7 linked regions of the Homo sapiens genome follow. The protein of the gene in region 1 purifies or fractionates together with the protein of each later gene. This does not show direct contact. Each region holds a gene or a part of one and is shown in the gene's direction. Other genes may lie near its edges. The genes, in order: OPALIN, ATP2C1, MROH1, FLVCR1, USP1, ATP2B1 and FIRRM.

Region 1 (4,288 bases):
AGGCCGGCCACTCCCAAACGGATGTCTTCAGCCCCAGATCCCCTTTATCCAGTCGCCTACTTGGCACCCACACTTGGACAGCCCCTAGGCTACTCAGGTGTAAGGGCAATCTGTTTCTCCAGTATTACCTGCCTAAGCTAATAGCATCTCCATTTTTGTTAGTCAAGCCTCAAACCCAGGAGTTGGCTTTATTCTTCTCTTTCCCTCACCTCGCCCTTCCCCGCCCCATATTTTTTTCATCATTTAATCCCAGTGGCTCCACCTCCACAGTAGAGAGCACAATCATTCACTGCTGTCTTCCTACAGCAGCCACCTTCATCGCTCACCTGGACTCCACTAGCCAGCCACCTGCTTCCACTCTCTTCCCCTGTAATCTTGGCTCCACAGAGAAGCCCTAGCAATCCTCGTCACCAGCAATTACATCATGCATCTCTCCCACTGAAAAACCCTTGGAAAAGGTTTCATCTAAGGATGAAAATCTTACCATGCCCTCCCATGTCACATCAAAAGGGCTCAAACTCACTCCGTCCTTAGCCCCTTCCCGGGTGACTCCCTGGTTTATGTTGTTCCAGCCAACCGGCCTCCTGCCTGCTCTGGGAGTGCACCAAGCTTACAGGGCTTAGCATTTGCTGTGGCTTCTGCCTGGGACTCTCCTCCCTCAACCCTTCACATGTCTGCCCTCTTCTCATCTTTCACGCACAGCTTCAGTGCCATCTCCCAGAGTCATCTAAACAACGGCCTCCTCTGTCACTTGAGTCGCTCTCTCCTTACACTCCTATCTGCTCCTCTCACAGTGGTTTTCATTTCAATGGCCAAATTATTGGTTTAATTCTGTTGTTTTATTAGCAACTCATTCACCATTTTAAAGAGGCAAATCCCTAACAGGGAAATTGTAAGTTATAAAGCAGCCCAAGTCCATGGCTTCCTCCAGGTCTAGAGAGCTTCCCACCCAAAATACAAAAACAGAGAGGGGGTGAGGCTGAACTCACACCAGGCAGCTCATTGGCCACTGAGTGCAGCACCTTGCAGCAGCTGGAGCCCCCAGCAGTGTGACTCCTGCAACAGAATGGGCCCCCACCCCTCCTCCAGACATCCCGAATGTCCATGCTGTTGTCCATGTAACACAATGACTCCATCATTATCAGTAACATGGTTAATGTGGACTCCCGTCAGCTGGGGATGGAGTGGCCAGCCTCAGCCTCATGTAACCCATTGTTTCCAAAGGGCTGCAGGCTGCAGAAGCCCCCAAGCTCTCAGGCCAGCTGTGGCTTCTTTGCTGAGATGGAGGTATAGCCAAGAAAGCAGCCTGAAAAGTAAGGACAGAAAATCAAGGCAAAGAGGGTGGGTGAACCAGGCCATACACGTCGGCCATGCAGCAGCAGCCCATCTTTCCCGAGGGATGGACTGAGGGCTTGGCTACTCCCCTGACCATAAATGGCTTGGCCAGGGTTCTCTTGGAGCCACCTCTCAGCCTGCCTCTGCAGCTTTGTCAGTTAACTGTTCCTACAAATGAAAGACACAAGCCAATAAAGCCAGTGAGAAAGGAGCTTACCAAAGGCAGTGTACGAAGAAGGTTCCTGGGAGACTGTCAGAAATGGTGAGTGAAAGCTGGCATCTCTTCTCAATCGAACTTTCATTTCTTACTATAAAAAACCTCCAAATTCAATTAAATGTACAATGAAGTAAAGGGACTTTATTTTAAATTATTTTCCTATATGCAAAATACCAATAATTTTTTAAACTTCTCACCTAATATTTGCTGATCTTGTCTTTCATTTTGGTATTAAGGTTTGTTTTTAAAACCCCACATACAAGAGTACAGAGTAGATGTTTCACCTATGTTCCCTTTCTAGTTGAAGCAATGGATCTAATCAACGATTTTATCTGTCTTACTTGTTTAATCTGGCTTTTTGTTCCATCATCAGCAACATGGATGGTCATCATTGATCAGAAATTTTCCATCTTTCTTGTTTACTTGTGATAAATATTTTGTTGTGACTCAATCAAATGAAGTTTGCTAAGTTAGAAGAGAAAACAAGAGGGTTCTGTGATTTACTAAAGAATTATGGAAACAGCCTAGGTGTCCATCAGTGGATGAATGGATAAAGGGACTGTGGTTTATATGTATATATACAACTGAATATTAGCTTTAGAATAGGAGGAGACCCTGCCATTTGCCATGTTTGTCCTATTTGGACCTGGAGAACATTATGCTAAGTGAAATAAGCCAGACACAAAAAGAAGAATATTGTGTAATCTCACTTTCTTGTGGAATTTTTTTTTTTTTTTTTTTTTTTTTTTTTTACAAAAAGCATTGTTAAAAGGAGTAGAGCTCAGTCTGTGGAGTTAGGGAGATCTGTGATCTAACCTGATCTCTACCACTTAAAAGCTGGTGAGCAAAAACCTATCTTGGTCTCAGTTTCCACAGGTATAATATAGGAATAATAGTGCTCCCTTCATGGGGAGGTTGTGAGTATGGGGTCTTATACCCAGCACACCTTCAACAGCAGTAAGTTTTTATCCTGTCTCTTCCTCCTTCCTCTCACAAACTGCAAACTTATAATGAAGGACGTTCAGCCACTGAGATCCCAAAATGCCTTCAGAATCATTGTGTAGATACTGCATAGTGCTCAGACTAGCAGTAAGCAATAATTGCATTGTATCCAATTCTAGTACTTTGACTATCACTAACTCATGCTTGCAATTCCATTCCACAAGAACTTTCCTATCCTTAGCTCTGTGCTGGCCAGGCCATAAAGAATATGCTACCACGTGATCCCTAAAACACAGAGGGTGTTTTACAGTTTGGGAGAAAGGAGCTGCCACAGATGACATTACGGTATTCCCTTGTGAAGTGGGCAAGGCAAGTTAATAGTATCCCATTTTGAGAATGGGAAAACTGAGCCTTGGAGAATAGATTTGTTGTGAGAAAATGGAGACCAGAGGGTTTGAGTGACTTATCCAAGACTACACAGCTCCTAAGTGGCTAAGTGTGGGCTCGAATTTAGATCAGGTGGCTCCAAGCTCAGGGTTGCATCATCCCACTCAGCTGTGTCTCTGAAGGGCACTGCATCAGATTCTTCTCCACCCTAATTTGTGCGATGTTTTTCTCTCCATGAGAGCACTGTACTGTGTTTCTACAAAATATGAGTGTCTTTCTGAAATTGGCCAAAATCTCCGTCATCCGAATGTTGATAAACAACACATGCAATGGCCCACTTGTTGCTGCACCCCCTCTTCTACTGTCCTCCCAAAGGAAGCTTTGTCTTAGGGCTGCTGACATCAGTCCTCAGTGCCCACTGATGAGATAAAGCTCTGGGCAGCTGCATTCAGTGCAGCGACCATCCAGTGTCCTTGCAGCACGTGTTGGTCTGGTGCTAGCGTGAAGAGCAGTGGTTAGGTCCCTTGAGCAAGAGGACCCTGACCTAAGAGGCCCAGACGTCCCTGTGTTCCACCGTCATCCCAGAAGCAGAGGTGCACAGTGCTGTCAGCCTGGGTGCTCTGATTCATCCACAGAGACTACTGGAGTTGCTTGGAAGCCTTGCAGAGTGGTGGAAAGAGGTTGTCACCGGGACACTCAGGTTCTGGTGACAGCTAAGTAGTTGTTTGGACTTGGGAAACCTGTTCAAATTCTTGAGGCTTGGTTATTCTCTATAAAATGCGGGTGTCCTATTGCCAAGAGGGGGAGAAGTGAGCAGAGGCACCACTGAAGCGTGCTAGTTGAGCAGGGCCACGTTGATTGAAGGACATAATATTTGGGGCAAAAGCTAGGGGGACTTACACATTCTAGGTGCTTAAAACACTTCTGGTTCACAAAAGATTTTCTTGTTCATTAACCCATCTGAATTCCAATCCATCAGTAAGTCAGCTGAAATAGGTGTTTTGTCAGTTTGCTTCTGTTGGGATGAGATCCTCTGTTACCATCTTTCGGGTTGGGGTTGAGTCACATAGACTGCGGCCCATTGGCTGGTCTATGTGGCTCCAACTGTTCTCATTTGTCCATGAGGTGATTTCTGATAAGTCCCTGGGTTTCAGTTTCCTCTGCTGGAAAATGAGGGTTTTGAGAGAGATGATCTTTCAGGTAATTCAGGTGTGAAACATGATTCTTTTGGATTCTTTAATGTTTCACAACTTTCCTATTGTTGGATAACATTTAATTTTAAAACTTAATGAATGCATTGTTTCTACAATGACAGAATCTGGTCTTGGGATGCTGGAAAGACGGGAAGCTGTGGTGTAGACCAAGCCCAGGGAAATATCTGGGGGTCAGGGAGACCGAGGCTGAAGG
Region 2 (3,500 bases), on another chromosome or scaffold:
TTAGGATTTTTTGAGGGTTTTTTTTTGGTCATATAAATACTTCTTTAGTGTGGTGTCTTCTGGTAAATACCTCTCTTTTTTAAGGAAAAATTCTTAGAAATAAAATTATTTAGTCAAAGGGGATCCATGTAACTTTTAAATTTTTGGCCAGCTTTAAGTATTGTCATTAACTTCAACTGTAAATAAAAGAGTTCTCATTATTTGATTTCACAGTTCATTATTAGGGAAACCGAATGCTTTGTCATGTGTGGGTTGATCATTTTTATTTCATTTTATGACCTGCCAACGATTTCTTTTGTCCCTTTTCTTGTGTCTTGAGTCTTAGATTGATAAAAGCTTTTTATATGACTAGATTATCAATCTTTTTGTTGTATAAGTTTTTTTTTCCCGTTTAAGTTGCCTTTGAGGCATGTGGAATAAACTTGGTAAGAGGACAATATATGTAATTAACCATTTATGCCTAGTGTTCCATTATTGGAATGCTAAGCATGTGGGACTTATTTATATCCTACTGCTCAAGGTCATTGCCAAGGTCTGGTTGCAAAAATTCAAAAAATTGCAACCTCAGACACAAATGGGTTAAAACATCCCCTTTTCCTTGAGATTCTGTTATCACCCTCCTATTGATAATCTCTGCAATTAAGTTGGTTTTGTTCTGTTCCTAAAGATTTTCCCAACCTCATGTTTATAAGAACATTTATTAAAACATTGTTGTATAGTTTTTTATTTTTGACATTTTACTATTTTATTTAAAATTTATTTTAGTACATGGCTTAAGGCAGAGTTTTAACTTTTTTACTCAAGTTAATTATCCCATTAATTCTGTAATCCAGTCTTTATTCATTGGATTGAAGTCACGTTTTTATCACACATTAAGCACTTGCATTAATTTTGGAGTCTTTTCTCCTTTAATTTTCTTACCGTGTTAATTATTCCAGCTAGTTTAGTATTTCAAAGTCAGTAATACAATTTTTTTATTTGAGATGGAGTCTCATTCTTGTTGCTCAGGCTGAAGTGCAATGGCGCAATCCCGGCTGACTGTAACCTCCACCTCCTGGGGTTCAAGTGATTTCCCTGCCTCAGCCTCCCGAGTAGCTGGGATTACAGGTGTGCACCACCACACCTGGCTAATTTTTTTATTGTATTTTTAATAGGGACGGGATTTTACCACATTGGCCAGGCTGGTCTCAAACTCCTGAACTCATGTGATTGCCCACCTCAGCCTCCCAAAGTGCAGGGATTACAGGACTAATGCAATTTTAAAGCAATATTTCTGTTAATACAATATTAGTTGAAATAACTTTGTAAATAGTAATTCTGTTTATCCATCTATCTTCATTGTAAACATAAAGTAGAAGGTAGGAAGTTATCTTAGTTATTTTTGTTTTACTGGTGTGTATGCCCTCATAACTTCTTCCGTTTGATTATTGCTCATTTTCTAGAAATTTTATAGTGAATTTGATAGATCGAATGACATTCTAGCCAATTAAATCTTTGTAGTTTCTATTAGCACTATACCATAAACCATTTCAAATTTAGTAATAAATATGTTTCAACTTTACGATCTCTGGTTATATGTTAGTATATTACATTGGACATAATTTTTCTTGCCAAGGTCAAGAGCTAGATCAGGGGTCAGCAATTGTTTTTTTTTGTTTTTTGTAAAGAACTAGATAGTAAATATTTTAGTCCATATGGTCTCTGTTGGAAATACTTTACTTTGCCATTAGCATGAAAGCAATCATAGAAAATATGTAAATAAATGAGTGTGGCTATGTTCCAACAAATTTCATTTACCTAAGCAGACAGGAGACCCACAGATTATAGTTTGCTGACCCCTGGTATAATCCTTTGGACATAATTTCTTTCATCATGATAGTATTTGGGATAGGATCTTAGAAGGTTGCTATTTGGATAATTATTCTTTAGTTATATAAAGATGAAAAAAAAAACTTGTCTTAAATGTTCATATTGATTTGCAGTCTTGAGATAGCTTATTTTATCAAACCTCTCGTGAATCTGTTTGCTTTTTCCTCACAAACCTGCTTGTGCGCCCCTTTCCCCCTATTCTTTTCAAAGATAAAAGGTTAAAGCAAGGAGTATTGGTTTAATTGATTTTTAAATTTTTGAAATGCCATAAAAGTAGTGATTTTTAGATGTTAATGCAGTTGTAGGTGCTTAACGTAAGGCACATCACTTTTTGAGCCAAGTCGTAAGTGTCCCTTTGTGTGTAGTATGGATTTGCTGAGAAGTGTCTGGATATTGTGTTATGGAAAATAAAGTTTTAGGGTTTAATTTTGCATATTTGATATTAAATAGAAGACCTATATGTTTGCTGCCACCTTCTTTTTTTCATTGTATGAACATACTGGTAATTTTTAAAAAAATAATAAAATATTACTGCTTTAAGGGATGGTAGGAGCAGTGTCAACCAAAAGTAAAACTGTGTGTGTGTGTGCATGTGTGGTGTGTGTGTGCACACATGTACGTATGTGAGTATGCACAGCATTCACATTAAGCAGTGTTAACTTTAACCTCCCCTGTTTAATGGATTTTTATAAAATCTTCTAATTGTGATCTGATATGCTTTCCCTTTTTTGTCAAGGGACGTTTTAGATTCCTTCAGCTTGTTCTGTTCCTTCTAGGTGATTGTATGTAAAAGGGAAAAATAACTATTTAATTATCTTTCAGGAATCATCATGTTGGTTGGCTGGTTACTGGGAAAAGATATCCTGGAAATGTTTACTATTAGTGTAAGGTAAGTCTCAATACTTTATAATTGGAGTCTCTTTTGCCTCTTTTATTTCTCTAATGGACATAGCTTACGTTTTATTATGGAGATCAGTATTACATGGAGCCCATAAGAGTATAACATCGCTACATAAATAGTTCAGAAGTCATATATTAAAATTATCCTTAGAAAAATGAAAATGTATGTATATGGTAATGAAGAAAACCCATACTAGATGTCTGGAATTACTAATGCATTATTGCCTTTTTATATATAAATATACAATTAAGGATTGTCAAATTGAAAACTAGCAACATGAAAGAGAAAGTTCACAATATAGAAATTGAATAATCAATTTCAGAGGAAAACGAAACATTGAAGAAATGATGACAAATTTAAAAACCAAGTGTTTGTATTTTCAGAGACTTGTGAAGAAACTGCATCCATGAGATAAATTGTTGTAGAAAAGGATCAGAGAACAAAAAGAGTTTTTAGAAATTAAGATTATGATTGTTGAAATTAAAAATTCAATTGTAGGGGTGTAATATAAATTCAAAGAGGTCTCCCCCCAAAAAGAGTAAAAAGTCTTAGAATGAGATAAAATGATGAAGAGGAATAATTTCAGGAAATACCACTTGTAACTAATTGGAGTTTCAAAAATTACATAAGATATGACACACAAGTATTTTCTCAAGCTAAGGCAAAAAGTAAGTCTTTATAGATTGAAAGGATTCACTAAATACCAAGCAGAATGGAAAAAACTTCAACC
Region 3 (3,500 bases), on another chromosome or scaffold:
CGCGGTGCTTGATTTGGTTGGCGATATTTTTATCATGTTCCAGAAGCATCTATTTGTTTTAATGAGAACTTTTATCAGGAACAGGTATTAGATTTTGCTAAATATCTTTTTATCATCTGTCAGGATTATTCTAGGCTTTCTTTTCTCTCTCTTTTTTTCCCTGAGACAGGGTCTCACTCTGTTGCCCAGGCTGGAGTGCAATGGTGCAAACACAGCTCACTGCAGCCTGGAACTCCTGGGCTCAAGTGATCCTCCCGCCTTGGCCTCCCGAGTAGCTGAGACTACAGGTGCATGCCACCACACCCAGCTGATTTTCTTTTATTTTTTGTAGAGATGGGTCTTGCTACATTGCCCAGGCTGGTCTTGAACTCTTGGGCTCAAGTGATCCTCCTGTCTCGGCCTCCTAAAGTGCTGGGATGACAGATGCTGGGGTTACAGATGGGAGCCACTGCACCTGGCCTTTTGTTAATGCACCAAAACTATCTTTTCTTTTTTTTCTTTCCCTCCCTCCCTCACCTCCCTCCCTTCCTCCCCTCCCTCCCTCCCTTCCTCCTTCCTTTCCTTCCTTTCCTTCCTTTCCTTCCTTCCTTTCTTTCCTTTCTTTCCTTTCTGAGACCGAGTCTCTCGCTCTCACCCAGGCTGGAGTGCAGTGGCGCAATCTTGGCTCACAGCAACCTCCGCCTCCTGGGTTCAAGCGATTCTCCTGCCCCAGCCTCCCGAGTAGCTGGGATTACAGGCGCCCACCACCACTGCCGGCTAATTTTTGTATTTTTAGTAGAGATGGGGTTTCATCCTGTTGGCCTTGAACTGGTCTTGAATTCCCAGACTGGTCTTGAACTCCTGACCTCAAGTGATCTGCCCACCTCAGCCTCCCAAAGTGCTGGGATTACAGGCATGAGCCACCGCGCCCTGCCGAAACTTTCATTCTTTATGTGGTCAAATCTCGTGTGTTCAGGGCTCTTCCCACCTCATACTTTCATGGCCTGTTCATCACATAACCCTGGTCTGGCTGAAGCTTACCTTGGTGCATGATGTGATGGATGCCCAGTCTAAGAACAATGGCTGGTCACCCTGCAGTCTTTCTCTAACATTCCAGCCTTTCCCTTCTGACTTGAAATTCTTTCTCATCAGTGGCGCCCAAGTAGATACCAGGTTTCCATCTGAGCCCAGGATCCTGTGCAAGGGTAGGGTGGGAGCACCTCCCAGGAAGGCCTCGCACGTGGGGGCTGAAAAGGGAGCAGGTGGTGGGAGGGGGACAGGTGCGTCTGCCAGGGAGGAGGTGTGGAAGTAGGAGGAAGCTGTCTGCCTATAGGAGCATGGGAGGAGCAGGACTGAGGAGAGCAGAAAGGCTCTGGAAGGCAGGACCAGGACAGTCAGGGTGTGAGGGGGTCTTGTACAGTCCTGCCCCTCACCCAAATTGGCAGAGCCCGTGCACTCCTCCCATTTGGGGCCCCCTCCTCACCCCAGTTGTCCGTCTGCCTGCACACGCCTGCGTGCCCACGTCGGCATGGCCTGGCCCTCCTTCTTGTAGGGGCCCGGCCTGGGAGCCTGTGTGGCCCTGGTGTAGACGAGGTGTGGTCAGAGCTGAGCTGAGCAGCGCCCACGCTGCAGCAGGAGGGGAGGGAGGAACTCACTGGGAGCTGTGTTGGCCACACTGAGGGCCCAGGGCTTCGTGGACACCAGCAGCACTCCTGGCCACACTCCAGCCCTCCTCTGGGTACAGGTGGCATAGGTGGCATCCACCCACCCCCAGCATTCTAATAGCCCAGGCATCTCCTCCTCCAGGCCCTGGTGCCCTTCCACAACCTGGGCCTTCTCATCGGCCTCTTCTCCCCACGGTGTGCGGACCTGTGGCCTGCCACCCGCCAGGAGGCCGTGGACTGTGTCTACTCCCTGCTGTACCTCCAGCTCGGCTATGAGGGTGAGCCCTCGTCAGGAGTGTGGGGGCCAGTGGTCGTGCAGGGGTGCTTGGAGGGATGAGGTGCGGAGTCCAGGCTGTGGGATCGCCAGGGAGGGCCTGGGCCCGACTGCTCATTCCTGCCGCCTCTCAGGCTTCTCCCGGGACTACCGCGATGACGTGGCGGAGCGGCTCCTCAGCCTCAAGGACGGCCTCGTGCACCCTGACCCCGCCATTCTCTTCCACACCTGCCACAGTGTAGGCCAGGTACCAGCTGGGAGCTCTGCGGCCGGAAGGCAGGCTGGCACTGTCTGGGGCTAACAGGGACTTCCGAGGTGGCACCTGGCCTCCCCTAGCCTCTGGAAGTGCCACCCATGGCCAGTGGGCATGAGCAGGGCCTGGGTGTTTGCATTAGTTGCCGGCGCTGCCCTGCGCTGGCCCCATCACCCACACCCGCCTACGCTGGGGCAGTGCAGTCCATATGAGAGGAAGGTGCTATTTGTCTTGAGACCTGGCAGAGGCCAAGGAGAGAATGGGGTGCCATGAGGCACAGCCGCCCTCTGTCTGCCACTGATACCCTGGCCTGCTCATGAAGATGCAGGTTTCTGGAACAGAATCTTCAGCGGCTGCCCTGTGTGGTGTTGTCCCCAGAGGCTACCCAAGAGCCACGTGGGGGGCTAGGGTCATCGCCTGCAGGGTGCAGCGGGCTCTAGCCCTCTTGCCAAGGGGCCTGCCCTTGGTTCCAGCTGGTCAAGGTGCTTTGTCTACTGCCATCTGAAGGGAGGATGACCCTGGGCACCGCGTCCCCTCCCCGACCCATGCCTGCCTGGTCTACTCTGAGGCTCAGCTCACAACACAAGCTTGAGTATTATTAAAGTATTGCATTACGGGGGGGAAAAAAAGAGTCCTTCCAAGGGGATGAGAAAGCTGCCCCTCCCTCCGTGCTCTCATGTGGGTCCCCAAGCTGGAACACGGCCTGTCTCCATTTGGTGCTTAGGAATGGCCTTCCAGGTCCAGAGACTGTGTCTCCTGCAGAGGAAGGAGGGGTAGGTCACCAGGGCCTTTTCTGGTGCTGGGATCACAGGTGTGAGCTAAGGCTCACCTGCCCTTGACCCCGTGTTCTAGAGAGCTCCAGGGCGACTGCACCACAGGGCTGCTCCCAGCCCACTTCACTGGTCAGAAGGAGCCTGAGGGAGGGTACTGTGACCCCAGCCCTGCAGCTGCCCAGGCACCACCTTCCAGGAGCCCGCCCAGGTTCCAGCAGGCCCTGGCAGGTTCCGGAGAAGGAGACCCCACCCCCGTGCAGCGAGCTCATTGAAGGCGCAGGGCCCAGCGGCTGGGGCCCGGCTGCAAGAAGGGGTGTGGCTTCCCGCCCTAACGCGAGCCCCTGAGACCCGATGCCTAACAGAAGTGGCGTTGGGGGTGCCCCCCTTCCCTCAACCTCTGGCATCGCCTTCCTCCTAGATTATTGCCAAGCGCCTCCCCCCAGACCAGCTCATCAGCCTCTTGCTAACCATGTTTGAGGCCCTGGGAGACCCCGAAAAGAACTGCTCCCGAGCAGCTACCGTCATGATCAACTGCCTGCTGCAGGAGCGGGGCGGTG
Region 4 (3,589 bases), on another chromosome or scaffold:
TAGCCTACATGTCCCCATTTAGTGGAGACCTCTTGAATGCTATTTGAATTCTGCAGTATCATTTTTATGACCATTCTCCTTTGAGGAATACTATGCCCAGGTACATGCTCTATCAGTGTGCCGGGAGAGTGGATTCTTTTCTTCACTGCAGAGTCATCACACTGTTAGAATAGTCTGCTCTTTTACATGCTCAGGTAGGGAAAATAGGACCAAATATATTTCCACAGTGCCTACCACTGTGTCATGTTTACAGTGAGAGTTTAAATATTGTTGATGTCCTGACTCTGTGAGCTCATAGGGAGTATCTTCATAGTAATGACATTTGATCAGCCATAAAATTTACATTATGTTCATATGCACCCAAAAAAGCTAGTCAGGTAATGAATACCCTTGAAGTGAATAGCAATTTTGATTTAGGCAGTGTGTTAGGCCATCCTTGCATTGCTATAAAGAAATATTTAGGCTGGGCGTGGTGGCTCACGCCTGTAATCCCAGCACTTTGGGAGGCTGAAGCGTGTGGATCACCTGAGGTCAGGAGTTCAAGACCAGCCTGGCCAACATGGTAAAACCCCATCTCTACTAAAAAAAAAAAAAAAAAAAAAAAAAAAAAAAAAGGCCAGGCGCAGTGCTGTGGCTCATGCCTGTAATCTCAGCACTTTGGGAGGCCAAGGCAGGTGGATCACAAAGTCAGGAGTTCAAAACCAGCCTGGCCAAGATGGTGAAACCCCATCTCTACTAAAAATACAAAAATTAGCGCAGTGGCAGGCGCCTGTAATCCCAGCTACTCAGGAGGCTGAGGCAGGAGAATCGCTTGAATGCGAATGGCAGAGGTTGCAGTGAGCGAAAATCACACTACTGCACTCCAGCCTGGGAGATAAAGTGAGACTGTCTCAAATAAATAAATAAATAAATAAATAAATAAATAAATAAATAAATAAAACCTGAGGTTGAGCACGATGGCTCACACCTATAGTCCCAGCACTTTGGGAGGCTGAGGTGGGTGGATCATTTGAGGCCAGGAGTTGAAGACCAGTCTGGCCAACATGGCAAAACCCCATCTCTACTAAAAATACATACACACACACACACACACACAAATTAGCCGGGCATGGTGGCACACGCCTGTAGTCCCAGCTTCTTGGGAAGCTGAGGCATGAGAATTGCCTGAACCTGGAAGGCGGAGGCTACAGTGAGCTGAGATTGCGCCACTGCACTCCAGCCTGGGTGACAGAGCGAGACTCTGTTTCAGGAAAAAAAGAACAGAAATACCTGAGACTGGGTAATTTATAAATAAAAGAGGTTTAAGTGGCTCACAGTTCTGCAGGCTGTGTAAGCATGGCACCAGTGTCTGCTCGGCTTCTGGGGAGCCCTCAGGGAGCTTTACTCATGGTGAAAGGCTAAGTGGGAGCAGAGATGTCACATGGCGAAGCAGGAGCAAGAGAGCAGGGAGGTGCCACACACCTTCAAACAACCAGATTTTGTGAAAACTCACTCATTACTGCAAGGACAGCACCAAGCCATGAGGGATCCACCCGCAGGACCCAAACACCTTCTATTAGGGCCAACCTTCAACATTGGGGATTACATTTCAATGTGAGATTGGAGGGACAAGTATCCCAACTATATCAGGCAGAATATATGCATTGATATATATTGAAATTATAACATTCTCTATAATCAAGTGACTGTAAATTATGTCGAATCTGACCCTGGGGAATGTGTTATCTAAAGAATTTGACTAAGAATCAGGAACTCTGTGTCCATGTCCTGGATGTATTTCTGTATGTTCCTATAACTCTGGACAAATCATTAAACCTCTCTGGGCAGCGTTTTCCTCATCCATGAAATGAATGTGTTCAATTTGATCTCAAAGATCTTTCCAAAATATTAAATGCCATTAATCATGGAATAGACCAAATTATTGTATCACAGGAACTTGAATCCAGCCAGAGAAAAATTCCCTGGACAATTGGATAAACAAATGTGATTGCTACCTTATGGATACAACGGACTTTTACATTTCTTTTTAGCCTTTTTAGTCAGTTGAGGGTAACTCAAGCAGAGTATGTCCAATCATTAGCTTCCTTTGATATTTACATTACAGGTAAAAACGGCCAAAAATATATTTTAAGGTCTCTCCCCAAATGTTTTTATTTTTAAACTATCAATGTTGTTTAAAATAATCATGTACTTGTTGAGTTCCTGAGGTTTGGAACAAATTACACATAAAATTTAGAATACTTTATTTCTGAAAAGCATATACATATATGTTATGTTTATTTTTCCTTGTTGATTAGAAAGGTGATGGAATATGTGACAATGCAAAATGAATTGATAATTTTTCTGTATTTTGAGTGAAAGTTGTCTGTAATATGTCAAGCAAGAATGTTATAATTCTACAGTAATGTGTGACTTCATGACAGAGCTACATTCTGAGAAATTTGTCATTAGGTGATTTCATCATTGTGTGAACATCATGAAGTGTACTTACACAAACCTAGGTGGTAGAGCCTACTGCACACCTGGGCTAGATGGCAAAGTCTGTCGCTTCTGGGCTACAGACCTGTACAGCATGGTACTGTATTGAATACTGTAGGCAACTGTAACACAATGGTATCTGTGTAATCTAAACATAGAACAGATAATACATTGTGCTACAATGTAACAATGGCTGTGGCATCACTAGGTGATAGGAATTTTTCAGTTCCATTATAATCTTATAGGATCTCTGTCATATGTGGTCAATTGTTGATCGAAACATGACTGTATGTCGTATTTTCAGAAAATGGAATAGGTAATCATCACTTGTGTGAATTTTAATCAAATGACTTAGGAAAGAAACTGGATGTTTCAAAAGCTGTTGCATTTATTACAAATGTCACAAATACAGCTCTTGCCTTTTGAGAATGTTGGAGAGATGTCTTTAAAAAATATGTTTGTGTGTAAAAATGTGTCTGTATGCAATAGCTAGAAAAATGCCTGTGTCTTAAGTCATTACTCATGTTCTAATTTTTGTTCTTTGTACTATTTATCTGTATGCTTGTTCTTCAGTATTTCAGACTCAAAATAAATTTATTTTTTTATGTTAATTTTCTGTGACTTTTTGAAAAATTCTGATGCTTAGGTACACATGGGGAGTTTAAAGGGATTATAAAATTTCAGAATGGGCAAAGAGGGAATGAGGTAGTGCATGGAACATAAAATGAGGAAACAAAGTCTACCAGGGTCAGGGCTAAAATAGATACTAAAATATTTTATTCCTTTAAAAGTAACTTTAGAGAGTGATGTTAGCAAGATGGCAGAATAGGAGCTTTATATCATCATTCTTCCACAGAAGCATTGATTTTTACCAGTACTTTCAGATGGTAGTTCTTTTGTAGGAATCCAGAAGTCCTACGTGGAAGTTCCAGCACACCATTGGAGCAGAAATATCTGAGAATAAATGCATTAAAGAAAAGGAAGAAGAAGATTTTCACTTTATCTGCATCACTCTTTGAAGTTGGCACAGCTTAGTGGCAAGAGAGACTCCCCTCAGTCCACAATTTCTCCCATGGGAGAAGGTGATAGCATAGTGAGAGTGCTCAGCCCC
Region 5 (3,500 bases), on another chromosome or scaffold:
ACATTTCTGTACTTTAAAAATTCTACAGTAAAGCAGCAGTGAACTTGGTTGACAACTCCAGTCTGACTTGATAGTCTGTAGCGGCACAAAAAAGTACGCTTCAGTGTACTTCTTAGTCAAATCTAGCAGTTTATAGTAGGAACAGCAAAACTGGTGGTTCCCCGTAGGAATCACATCGATAATGTTTAACTCATGTTAACACTGTGCTCAGCCATTTAGACTAACTTGGAGAAATATTTGTTGACTAAAATTGTCTTTCTGAGTTTAAATTTGATTATTTGTAGTGCAAAACATCTGTGTAGGGGTAAAAGGTTTTATATATATATATATATATATTTGTTTGGTTCAGAAGACTTGACAGTTATAAGACATTTTAAACTCTAGTCATGTAACTAGTCATACCTGTTGGAGGCATATGATTGCAAATTATAAAAATAAACTTTAAGTAATGCTTTTGATGCAAATAAATTATTTAGCTACAGAAAATAAATCAGAACAAAGTGGAATACTTTATTCCACCACCAGCAGCTCTAGCTGGAGTCTGTACTACTCCCTGTTTAACATATAGGCACTCTGCTGGGTGACTAAGGTGGATTTGGTCCCATGTGTTAATTTCCTAATAGCTATCAATAACCAGTTGAGGAGATTTGTGAGAGTGAAGCTTTTGTTTATCAGCATTCATACTTCTGAATACTTTGAGGTGCTAGAGTAATAATAGCTAGCAATCGTAAAATAAATGAAAATATTGGAAGGACCTAGTGGTTTTTTTGTTGTTGTTGTTAAAGAAGTAAAAGAATAGTAAACTTAAAGCATTTGTGTTTTGAGATGGGGTCTCCTTGTGTTGCCCAGGCTGGTCTTGAATTCCTGGGCTCGAGCAGTCCTCCCAAGTAGCTGGAATTACATGTCAATGCCCCCACACCCACATTCTGAACATTTTATTTTTAAGTGAGGGATAGCTACATATTTTTTTTTTTTTTACCAGCAGGAAGTCATATATAATTCTCTTCACAGACTTTCTTTCCTCTGAATTCTTATTAATAGAATCTTACTTAGTGCAGCCTCTCCCAAATATTGTCATGGTTAGTTTATTCCCAGGTTTCTGTTCAGTTAAACTATTTGATTAAAATGTCAAAGTAGATGAAACAAATCATAGTCTCTCAGTTCCTCAATTTTCTACTCTGTAAAATAGGATTAACATCCTTTTAAGGGAATTGTTCTGTGGCTTGTTATGTGTAATAATGTTTTTAAATGCTTTTAAAACTTTTATTCTGGGCATATAGCAATTTTTGAGCCTGTATTTCTTAAAATGTCATCTGAACAAGATTCACATACTTTTCAGATTATACAACTTTTGGGAAAAGACTAAATCTACAGAAGTAATATTTTCACCTTGTTTCTTTAAGATAACTACTTATCGTTCTCCCTTCTATATTTCATAGTGATCAAGTTGTTCCTGCAGCACAGTCTTCACCTATAAACTGTGAGAAGAGAGAAAACTTGTTACCATTTGTGGGACTGAATAATCTCGGCAATACTTGCTATCTTAATAGTATACTTCAGGTAAATTGACAATTTTGCTATATCATAAAGCTTTAGTAGGCAAAGATTGATGTAGCATTTAATGTTTTTGAGTTATTGGAGGACTTTAATGTCCATACTGTCTTTGCCTTTGATTGTTAATAAACCAGAATAGGCTAAAATAATAAGTTACATGTTATTAAACTTCCTTTGGGGTAAGAGAAAATGATAGACTAAATAAAGGTGGGATAGCAAAATTGAGTAGACCTTAAGTGGAAGGTCAAACCTTTAATTTCTTTCTCTGATTCCTGGTGCTACAGTGTGATATATGTCTTATCCCTTGGAAGTAACGTTGGCATTGTGTTGTGTGTCCGTTGGCGCTGTGTTGTGTGTCCTTGTAACCTTAAAGTCTTAGCAATATCTGCCCAGGTGCAGTGCTTTGTGCTAATGAGGGAAGACACTGGGCTACTACTGATGAAGTGGAGAACAAATTTTGACACAAAACTTAATCTCAGAATTTTAGGGTAATACATGTTAAAAGTGCTCTATAGAAAGCATGATGTTGTTTTAATGATTTTACGTGTATTGTTTGTTCAGTAAACACTTAAGACAATCTCACTTTTTATAGGTATTATATTTTTGTCCCGGTTTTAAATCTGGAGTAAAGCACTTATTTAATATTATTTCAAGGAAGAAAGAAGCTCTAAAGGATGAAGCCAATCAAAAAGACAAGGTAAGAAAAATAAAGAACAGAAAATAATGTAAAAAGCAAAAGTAAATTAATGGAAATTTACTTGCCTGGAAATGAAGAGGACTGGGGGGGTGGATGACAAAGATTATTTCTCTGTTAGCGAGCTATTGTCAGGCAATTATTTTTCATTCTTTCAAGGTGGCTAACTAGATAATTCCCTTTTACAATGTTTGCTCCTGTAATCTGTGTATCAAACTTTTGTTACTTGTATACTATATATTACTGTATACTATAATCACAATATGTTATACCCATGTACAACTTATTTACCCATTGTGTTTTCAAATTGAGTTAAAATTTAAATACAGTGTATTTAAAGAAATCTTTAACTTCCATAATTAAAAAACCATTGTAATTCACATAAATAGTAATTCATAATTCCTCTTAAAATTACAAAAAAGACCAGACGTGGTGGCTCATGCCTGTAATCCCAGCAGTTTGGGAGGTCAAGGTGGGTGGTGGATTGCTTGAGCGCAAGAGTTTGAGACCAGCCTGGGTAACATGGCAAGACCCTGTCTTTACTAAAAATACAAAAACTAGTAGGGCGTCATGGTGTGAGCCTGTAGTTCCAGCTAATTGGGAGGCTGAGGTGGAGGATTGCTTGAGCCCAGGAGGTTGAGGCTCCAGTGAGCCGCGATCAAGCCACTGCACTCCAGCCTGGGCGACAGAGACCCTGTCTCAAAATAAAAAAATAAAAAATAAGGCTTATTTGTACATCCCTTAAAATTAGTGCTATTATGCAACTTAGAAAATCTAGTATTCTTAAGTGAGACAAAGACAAAGGGGGAAGGTACTTAATTTGTTCATAAAATTATTGGTTTGTGTGTTTCTTTCTTGACAGGGAAATTGCAAAGAAGATTCTTTGGCAAGTTATGAATTGATATGCAGTTTACAGTCCTTAATCATTTCGGTTGAACAGCTCCAGGCTAGTTTTCTCTTAAATCCAGAGAAATATACTGATGAACTTGCCACTCAGCCAAGGCGACTGCTTAACACACTGAGGTATAGCCTATAATATAATTTTAGGGTTTCAATTTAGCTACTTGTTTATATCCTTGGAGGAGAATGACATGCGAAGAAACAGGAATAAAGGGCAAGGAAAGTAGAAACTCTAGGTCCACAGTCCTTTATATCCCAGAGACTCTGAATACTGGAAATTTTTTTCATAAATTTGGTGCTAAATTCGTTAGATCTGAACATATTATATGAGGCTTTTTATAGTCATTCATAT
Region 6 (3,500 bases), on another chromosome or scaffold:
TGGTTTTATATGCAGCTTAACTAGTTTTTTTTTTTTGGTCACTGTAGAAAATGATGAAAGATAATAACTTAGTAAGGCATCTGGATGCTTGTGAAACCATGGGAAATGCTACAGCTATTTGTTCAGATAAAACAGGAACTTTGACAATGAACAGAATGACAGTCGTTCAAGCTTACATAAATGAAAAACATTATAAAAAGGTTCCTGAACCAGAAGCTATTCCACCAAATATTTTGTCCTATCTTGTAACAGGAATTTCTGTGAATTGTGCTTATACATCAAAAATATTGGTAAGGTTTTTGAAATAATTTATGAAAATTAATTTTTAAATCTATAATGATCAGACTATATGTAAGTCTTCAGACCACCATTACTGTATGTAAACTGAACTGTTAAGTTTTTAAAAGGCATATATTTATTTATATAATGGTTTTTAAATTTGTGTTATGAGTGAGGTCTGCTGATCAACATAAACATTGTTTGCTTACATTTTTCTCCTATATTTTGAATTTCCTGTGTTCAGAAACTCTCCAGCCTTATAACCAGAGCATGTATTTAATTTTAAATTCTTGTTAAGCTCATTTTTGAGAAAGATCAAACTGTCTTACTATAGGAGGTCAGCTCTCAACTTACAGAAAATTTTTAAGCCGATTTCAACTTAAAATAACATGTTTTATATATGGTTGCCATGTGTTCTGTTTGGTTTCTCAGTAGTTCCTACCTAAAAGGTGGTCCTTAGACCTTTTTAGAACTAATGCAGTAAAGTAATTCTAGACTTGTGCCACCATATAATAAAAAATTTTCAACTTACAAGTTTTAAAAATCTTATTTATAACAGAAAGAATGCGATGTTATGTTTGACTTAATCTCTTCTAGTGATTTATGGATGAAAATCATTAACAAAAATAATATTGCAAGCTGTTCATTAGGGAAAACATACATGAATTGGATGATTACATTGGAAAGTTATGGGATCTTGGTTCTAGATCTAGCTTTGCCTTTTACTAGCTGAAAGTCTGAGCTACCTTCTTTAATTACTGAGTAAAGATGATCACATCTGCCCTTAATACCATTGTGATAATTATGTAAAGTGGTATTTCTGAAGGCACTATGAAGGAATTGAAGCTTCTCACTGCATTTAAGAGAACAGTATTTTAATGAATGTACTTTTAAGCCATAAAAATTGGTAGATTTAATTTTGAATGATTTAGTATAAAAGTTAAGTGAAAACAGGAAAAGGAAATTAAAATTAAGTTCCACTCTGTATTAGGAACCAACTATAAACTTCATACATCTTATATCACTTAATTTTGGGGTCATAAGTGCTCCTATTTTACAGATGCTGAAGCCAAGGACCAAAGCAGTTGGGTAATTGTCAAATTTCACGTAGCTAGTAACTGGCAGGACTGAGATTAGAATCCATGTCATTCTCACCCCAGGCTCCTTTCTACCTTACTTTTCTATATCCTTCTTTAAAATGTTGATATTAGACAATTGCTTTGTAATTTTATTTTAGAATATCGCAGTCTGTTTTACATTATAAATTAAACGTTCTTAGAGAAACGAGATACTAGCTACTAAATGTTTTTCTCTTATAGCCACCAGAGAAAGAGGGTGGATTACCTCGTCACGTTGGTAATAAAACTGAATGTGCCTTGTTGGGACTTCTTTTGGATTTAAAACGGGATTATCAGGATGTTAGAAATGAAATACCAGAAGAAGCACTGTACAAAGTCTACACCTTCAATTCTGTTAGGAAGTCCATGAGTACTGTCCTGAAAAATTCAGATGGAAGTTATCGAATATTCAGCAAGGGTGCATCTGAGATAATTCTGAAAAAGTAAGAGTAAAATGCTTGGATGAATAAATTGCTGACTATAGTTGCTTTATGGAGTATCTACTGTGTTGTTATTGTTGTTGTCTTTTTGTGAACATCAGGCATTTGATAGGACCTCAGAGTTTTTTAGCATATTTTATGGTATCCAGATATTTGCCCCTGCTATTCTGCCATTTTCACACTCTAGCTTCTCTTATTTCTTAGCATTTTGTTATAGGGAAAATAAGCTCATTACATTCAATCTGGTATGTTTAATGAAGTATACTTTGATGTTTATTTTTAGAAGTCGATTTACTTGTTATTTAATATGCAGAATCTTGAAAAGCCTCCTGGGAAGAAAATCAAGTTTATGTCTTTCTTTCTTTCTTTTTTTTTTTTTTTTTATTTGTTTAAGGTGGAGTTTCCCTGTATCACCCAGGCTGGAGTGCAGTGGCGCGATCTCAGCTCACTTCACCCTCCGCCCCTGGGTTCAAGGGATTCTCCTGCCTCAGCCTCCCAAGTAACTGGGATTACAGGCACCTGCCACCACGCCTGGCTAATTTTTGTATTTTTAGTAGAGTCAGGGTTTCACCATGTTGGCCAGGCTGGTCTTGAACTCCTGACCTCAAGTAATCTGCCTGTGTCGGCCTCCCAAAGTGCTGGGATTACAGACGTGAGTCACTGCACCTGGCCTCAAGTTTAGATCTTCAACGCTCATTGTGGTTACTGGACTCTGAATGTGATAAGAGAATTATGAAGTAATTTTTAGAATAGCAAAGCATAAAAGCTGGATCTTGGAAATTCCCCATTTATATCAAAATGAGATTTATCATGTTTATGCTGCTGCAGTGTCGTATTTAAATATCTCCTGTCATTTTGAATACTAATTTTTCTTACTGTCCTTTTACAGATCAGTAGCTTTAATTTTGTTATTACATGTTCACATATAATTTCCCTGATGTTTATTTGTTATTAAAGGTGGTGAAATTATTTTAGTTTCTTTAATTTCATTAAAGAAGTAGAGAACTGGTTAAAAAAAAATACTGGTTAAGAGCAAGTTGGGAAAATTGGAACTCATTTGAAATTATAATATTTAAAATATTAAAGTAAATGTTTAAGATATACTTTTAATTTGCTTACATGTGGATTATAAGCCAGTATTAATGAACACTTTACAATTAGTTTAAGAGACAAATATATAAATAAATAACTGAAGGCAGCATATAATAAATTGGTACAAAGTTTTTGGGTGAGAGATCACACTGTAGGGATGTGGCATTTAAGATAGATTTTGGTATGAAATGAGAACTTCGAGGTGGGGAAACCACAGCAGAGGAAAGGAGATGAGAATATGCAGGTCATACTGGGGAGGGGAATATCTGGTTGTATAGTTCAGCTGAATAGTGATGGGCTTTTGTGGCACACAGGCCATATACAGCTTTCTTCTTGCCACAGTACACTCAGTTACCTGATTTCATTGAAAAGGTTAGAAATCTGTTTCAACCCTGGCTTGCTGGGTAGTAGATAGATGGTTTAGGAGAGAATTTTTTTTAGTCAAAACTGATCAGGCATTGACTCTTTCTCTGCAACTAACTAGCTTCTGGATATGGGGCAGATTTTTCCCTTACTTCCATTTTTCTCATCTGAGAAAGCGGGTGATGACCACCAACTCTGTGGCACTTAA
Region 7 (3,500 bases), on another chromosome or scaffold:
TCTTGTATTTTAAAGCCACTGTACTCCAGCCTGGGTGACAGAGTGAAACCCTTAATTCAAAAAAAAAAAAAAAAAAAAGAAAAGCTGGAATATTGGCAAAATCAAGTAACTAAGAGAAAACATTAAATTCACAGAATACATTATTACATTTTAGATATATATGGTATATGTTTTCTCTGAAAAGCACAAGCATACCTTTTTTGTTTTAAATGGAGGGAACTAAAGATACTTTGGTGCCAAAATGAAACATTATTTGTAATTAATCTCTTATTGAAATGGGTTTCTAACTTTAGCTTTGAATCGTAATCTTTCAAATTTCTTGTACTCATAGTCACTTGATGATTCTCTATCTGAAATATTTCTTAGAATTTGTTCTTGACCACCAGAAAAAGATTCAACTGTTACATAGATGAAAATGGATGTTGAGTGTTAACAGGCCTATGGGAAACAGTATTTTCTTTAGCTACATTGTATTGTTGACTGTGTTGCTATTCTTATAATGTTTAGGTCATTTAAATTGTTAGAAAGATCCAAGTATTAAGATCTAGGGTGGCTAACTTTTCACAGACAAAAAGCTTGTTTGTAAGGTCATTTACTATACCCTTAATTCAGGAAGGTTAGCTTGAATTGGGTCAAAAGGAAACTGGTTAGAAAATAAGTGAGTAGTGAATAGGCGATTCAGTGCAAATTCCTTCCAGAAAATACCCTTGTAAATGACTGTATGAATGTGGATTCTTCAAGACAGTCAAATTTATTGTGCGAAAGTAATACTTTTATTTTTTGCATCTCTAAAACATGAACTTTGAGTGATTTTTTAAAAAAATTGATGCTATTAAATAGATTCAAACCATAGAAATGGAAAATAAATTTCTGTTTGGGGCTTTTGGGGGGATTATGTTGTAAAAATACCTTTTCTCTGTATTTTGTGCTTAATTAGGTACAATTGTTAAGCTAGATGATAGCCTGTGGATGTTACTAGTGCAAAATCAAATTATCGTATTGTGTTTTCTCTGTAAAGTTTTGTCTTGTCTTTTCTAGTGATTTCTCTTATTCCTGTTTATTACTTGATTTGTTTTTACAGACTGTGAAATTATTCGATGACATGATGTATGAATTAACCAGTCAAGCCAGAGGACTGTCAAGCCAAAATTTGGAAATCCAGACCACTCTAAGGAATATTTTACAAGTAAGTCAAATGTATTAGAAAGCAGGAGAGAGAGGGAGCTTAAAGAATGTCAAAATTTTTATACTGATACTGATTAGCTATGTATTCTTATGTAATGGCCTAATGTTGGAATTAAATTTATAGAATTAAAGACGTGAATATAGAAACATGAATTCTGAATAATAAACTCTTATAAGAAGAGAAGTCATCAAGCTAGCTGACCCTACCTGTATTTTCAAGGATATGTGTGGAACACCTGCCATGTGTTTTGAAGTTTGTGTTAGTATTCTAAATGGCTAGACAGTTGTTCCAGTATTTGTAGTTCTGATAGACTAAAGTTCTGTGAAAAGAGGAAGAGACTGTGTTTTGTTCATTGCTGTATTTGTAGCACCCAGCATGCTGACTAATACCTTTTCAGTGCACAAAAAATATATTCTAAGTGAAATTTCCTTCCTTATTCACAGACAATGGTGCAGCTCTTAGGAGCTCTCACAGGATGTGTTCAGCATATCTGTGCCACACAGGAATCCATCATTTTGGAAAATATTCAGAGTCTCCCCTCCTCAGTCCTTCATATAATTAAAAGCACATTTGTGCATTGTAAGGTGAGTAAAGGTCTAATTATACTTTGAATGGTATATAATCAATGTGCATAGGGGCTGAGTAAAATAATGTTTGTATAAGATTTTACATTTTAGTCTATATTATTGAAATAAACTTTTCCATAGAATAAAGAACATGTAAGTAAATAATTGTTGCAAAAAAAGTGGTTTTAAGGAAGTCATTAAAAGTGGCTTTTTGGGGTTTTTTAGTTTTATCTTATTTCCCCTCTATAAAGAAAGAAGTTTTAAGAATTTGTGTTGAGACAGACACAGGGATCCTGAAATAGTTATGTCATGTTGCATTGACCAATATTCAATTACCATTATGATTAGATGTCAGAACTTCCTTTTATAAAGGAAAGTTAATCCTTATTTAGTCCATCTCTACATGCCAGAGGTAGCCTTGAGGCACAAAAGCTTGCCTAGAATTTATGGGTCACAGACAGTTTTAATATTGCTATTTGTTGGGCGAATGAAAATCACTAGTTAATTAATACCTCTCTTTGCTGATAGGATGCTAAAAATGTCACGCACCTGGCCTAATGTTACCCTTTTTTAGTTCTGTATTTGCAAGATCATGGAAGTCAGAAATAATATTTTATACATGCTTGCATCTCTTGAAGCACACTATATTTAATGGATGTTCACTAAACAATGAATGAATATGTGATTCAGTAAATTTATGATCTCTAATAGTATGAATTAAAGTAAATTTGGCTCTTGAGCTTTGATTTGTTTTTTCTCTCATTTTTATTTATCCGTAATCAGAATAGTGAATCTGTGTATTCTGGGTGTTTACACCTAGTTTCAGACCTTCTCCAGGCTCTTTTCAAGGAGGCCTATTCTCTTCAAAAGCAGTTAATGGAACTGCTGGACATGGTTTGCATGGACCCTTTAGTAGATGACAATGATGATATTTTGAATATGGTAATAGGTGAGTGAAGAAAACTTTCTGCTTAGTATATGGTGACTATAAATCATGTATCAATTAAAATTGTCTCTAATGATTCATGTTATTTTCTTACTAATTATGCATTAAAATTGATTTAAATCTTACCAAATAAATTTTTAATCTTGAAATTTGGAATTTGTAAAATTTATTTTGGGTACCTTAACCTAGATTTGCGTATTTAGTTACTGTAATTTCTCCACAATGATTAACTTATATAACTTTATAATCTCTGAGGTTGTCCATATTCAGAGACAATAACTTTCACATTTTTTTAACCATAACTGATATTGAGATGCAGTTTATATTTCCTTCCAGAATACATATAAATACGTGCATATGTGTATGTAAATATGTCTATTCTCATATACATATTATAATGAAATAACTCATTTTACATGTGATGCACTTTATACTAGTTTATTTTTATTTTATTTTATTTTTTTGAGACAGAGTCTCACTGTGTAGCCCAGGCTGGAGTGCAGTGGCACAATCTCGGCTCACTGCAACCTCGCCTCCCGGACTCAAGCGATTCTCCTGCCTCAGCCTCATGAGTAGCTGGGATTATAGGCGTCCGCCACCACACCTGGCTAATTTTTGTATTTTTAGTAGAGACAGGGTTTCACCGTGTTGGCCAGGCTGGTCTTGAACTCCTGACCTCAGGTAATCCACCTGCCTCAGCCTCCCAAAGTGCTGGGATTACAGGCATGAGCCACCGTGCCCAGCCAATACTAGTTTATTTTTAAAGAATTGCTGGTCGTAACACACTTCATTGATTTTATCA

What was found.
Region 2: the proteins of OPALIN (region 1) and ATP2C1 purify together in Homo sapiens (co-immunoprecipitation; 2 studies listed by BioGRID and IntAct, with this or other methods). This does not show direct contact.
Region 3: the proteins of OPALIN (region 1) and MROH1 purify together in Homo sapiens (co-immunoprecipitation; 2 studies listed by BioGRID and IntAct, with this or other methods). This does not show direct contact.
Region 4: the proteins of OPALIN (region 1) and FLVCR1 purify together in Homo sapiens (co-immunoprecipitation; 2 studies listed by BioGRID and IntAct, with this or other methods). This does not show direct contact.
Region 5: the proteins of OPALIN (region 1) and USP1 purify together in Homo sapiens (co-immunoprecipitation; 2 studies listed by BioGRID and IntAct, with this or other methods). This does not show direct contact.
Region 6: the proteins of OPALIN (region 1) and ATP2B1 purify together in Homo sapiens (co-immunoprecipitation; 2 studies listed by BioGRID and IntAct, with this or other methods). This does not show direct contact.
Region 7: the proteins of OPALIN (region 1) and FIRRM purify together in Homo sapiens (co-immunoprecipitation; 2 studies listed by BioGRID and IntAct, with this or other methods). This does not show direct contact.

The regions. Positions count from the first base shown.
Region 1 is NC_000010.11:96,356,203-96,360,490, reverse strand, and holds the start of OPALIN (opalin), read left to right. Parts: upstream 1-1,488; 5' UTR 1,489-1,594; coding exon 1,595-1,597; intron 1,598-3,331; exon of another isoform or gene 3,332-3,581; intron 3,582-4,288. UniProt on the Homo sapiens protein: Central nervous system-specific myelin protein that increase myelin genes expression during oligodendrocyte differentiation. Promotes oligodendrocyte terminal differentiation.
Region 2 is NC_000003.12:130,956,584-130,960,083, forward strand, and holds part of ATP2C1 (calcium-transporting ATPase type 2C member 1), read left to right. Parts: intron 1-2,691; coding exon 2,692-2,758; intron 2,759-3,500. UniProt on the Homo sapiens protein: ATP-driven pump that supplies the Golgi apparatus with Ca(2+) and Mn(2+) ions, both essential cofactors for processing and trafficking of newly synthesized proteins in the secretory pathway.
Region 3 is NC_000008.11:144,245,516-144,249,015, forward strand, and holds part of MROH1 (maestro heat-like repeat-containing protein family member 1), read left to right. Parts: intron 1-1,785; coding exon 1,786-1,921; intron 1,922-2,051; coding exon 2,052-2,164; intron 2,165-2,643; coding exon of another isoform or gene 2,644-2,762; intron 2,763-3,022; coding exon of another isoform or gene 3,023-3,215; exon of another isoform or gene 3,216-3,331; intron 3,332-3,361; coding exon 3,362-3,500. UniProt on the Homo sapiens protein: Lysosome fission factor. Recruited to lysosomes by RAB7 (RAB7A or RAB7B) at scission sites and homooligomerizes to mediate the constriction and scission of lysosomal tubules. May sever membranes by inserting amphipathic helices into one bilayer leaflet.
Region 4 is NC_000001.11:212,896,275-212,899,863, forward strand, and holds the end of FLVCR1 (choline/ethanolamine transporter FLVCR1), read left to right. Parts: 3' UTR 1-3,089; downstream 3,090-3,589.
Region 5 is NC_000001.11:62,440,049-62,443,548, forward strand, and holds part of USP1 (ubiquitin carboxyl-terminal hydrolase 1), read left to right. Parts: intron 1-1,439; coding exon 1,440-1,560; intron 1,561-2,146; coding exon 2,147-2,251; intron 2,252-3,110; coding exon 3,111-3,271; intron 3,272-3,500. UniProt on the Homo sapiens protein: Negative regulator of DNA damage repair which specifically deubiquitinates monoubiquitinated FANCD2. Also involved in PCNA-mediated translesion synthesis (TLS) by deubiquitinating monoubiquitinated PCNA.
Region 6 is NC_000012.12:89,618,339-89,621,838, reverse strand, and holds part of ATP2B1 (plasma membrane calcium-transporting ATPase 1), read left to right. Parts: intron 1-47; coding exon 48-290; intron 291-1,598; coding exon 1,599-1,840; intron 1,841-3,500. UniProt on the Homo sapiens protein: Catalyzes the hydrolysis of ATP coupled with the transport of calcium from the cytoplasm to the extracellular space thereby maintaining intracellular calcium homeostasis.
Region 7 is NC_000001.11:169,801,540-169,805,039, forward strand, and holds part of FIRRM (FIGNL1-interacting regulator of recombination and mitosis), read left to right. Parts: intron 1-1,081; coding exon 1,082-1,186; intron 1,187-1,629; coding exon 1,630-1,770; intron 1,771-2,535; coding exon 2,536-2,701; coding exon of another isoform or gene 2,702-2,709; exon of another isoform or gene 2,710-2,847; intron 2,848-3,500. UniProt on the Homo sapiens protein: Regulates PLK1 kinase activity at kinetochores and promotes faithful chromosome segregation in prometaphase by bridging kinase and phosphatase activities.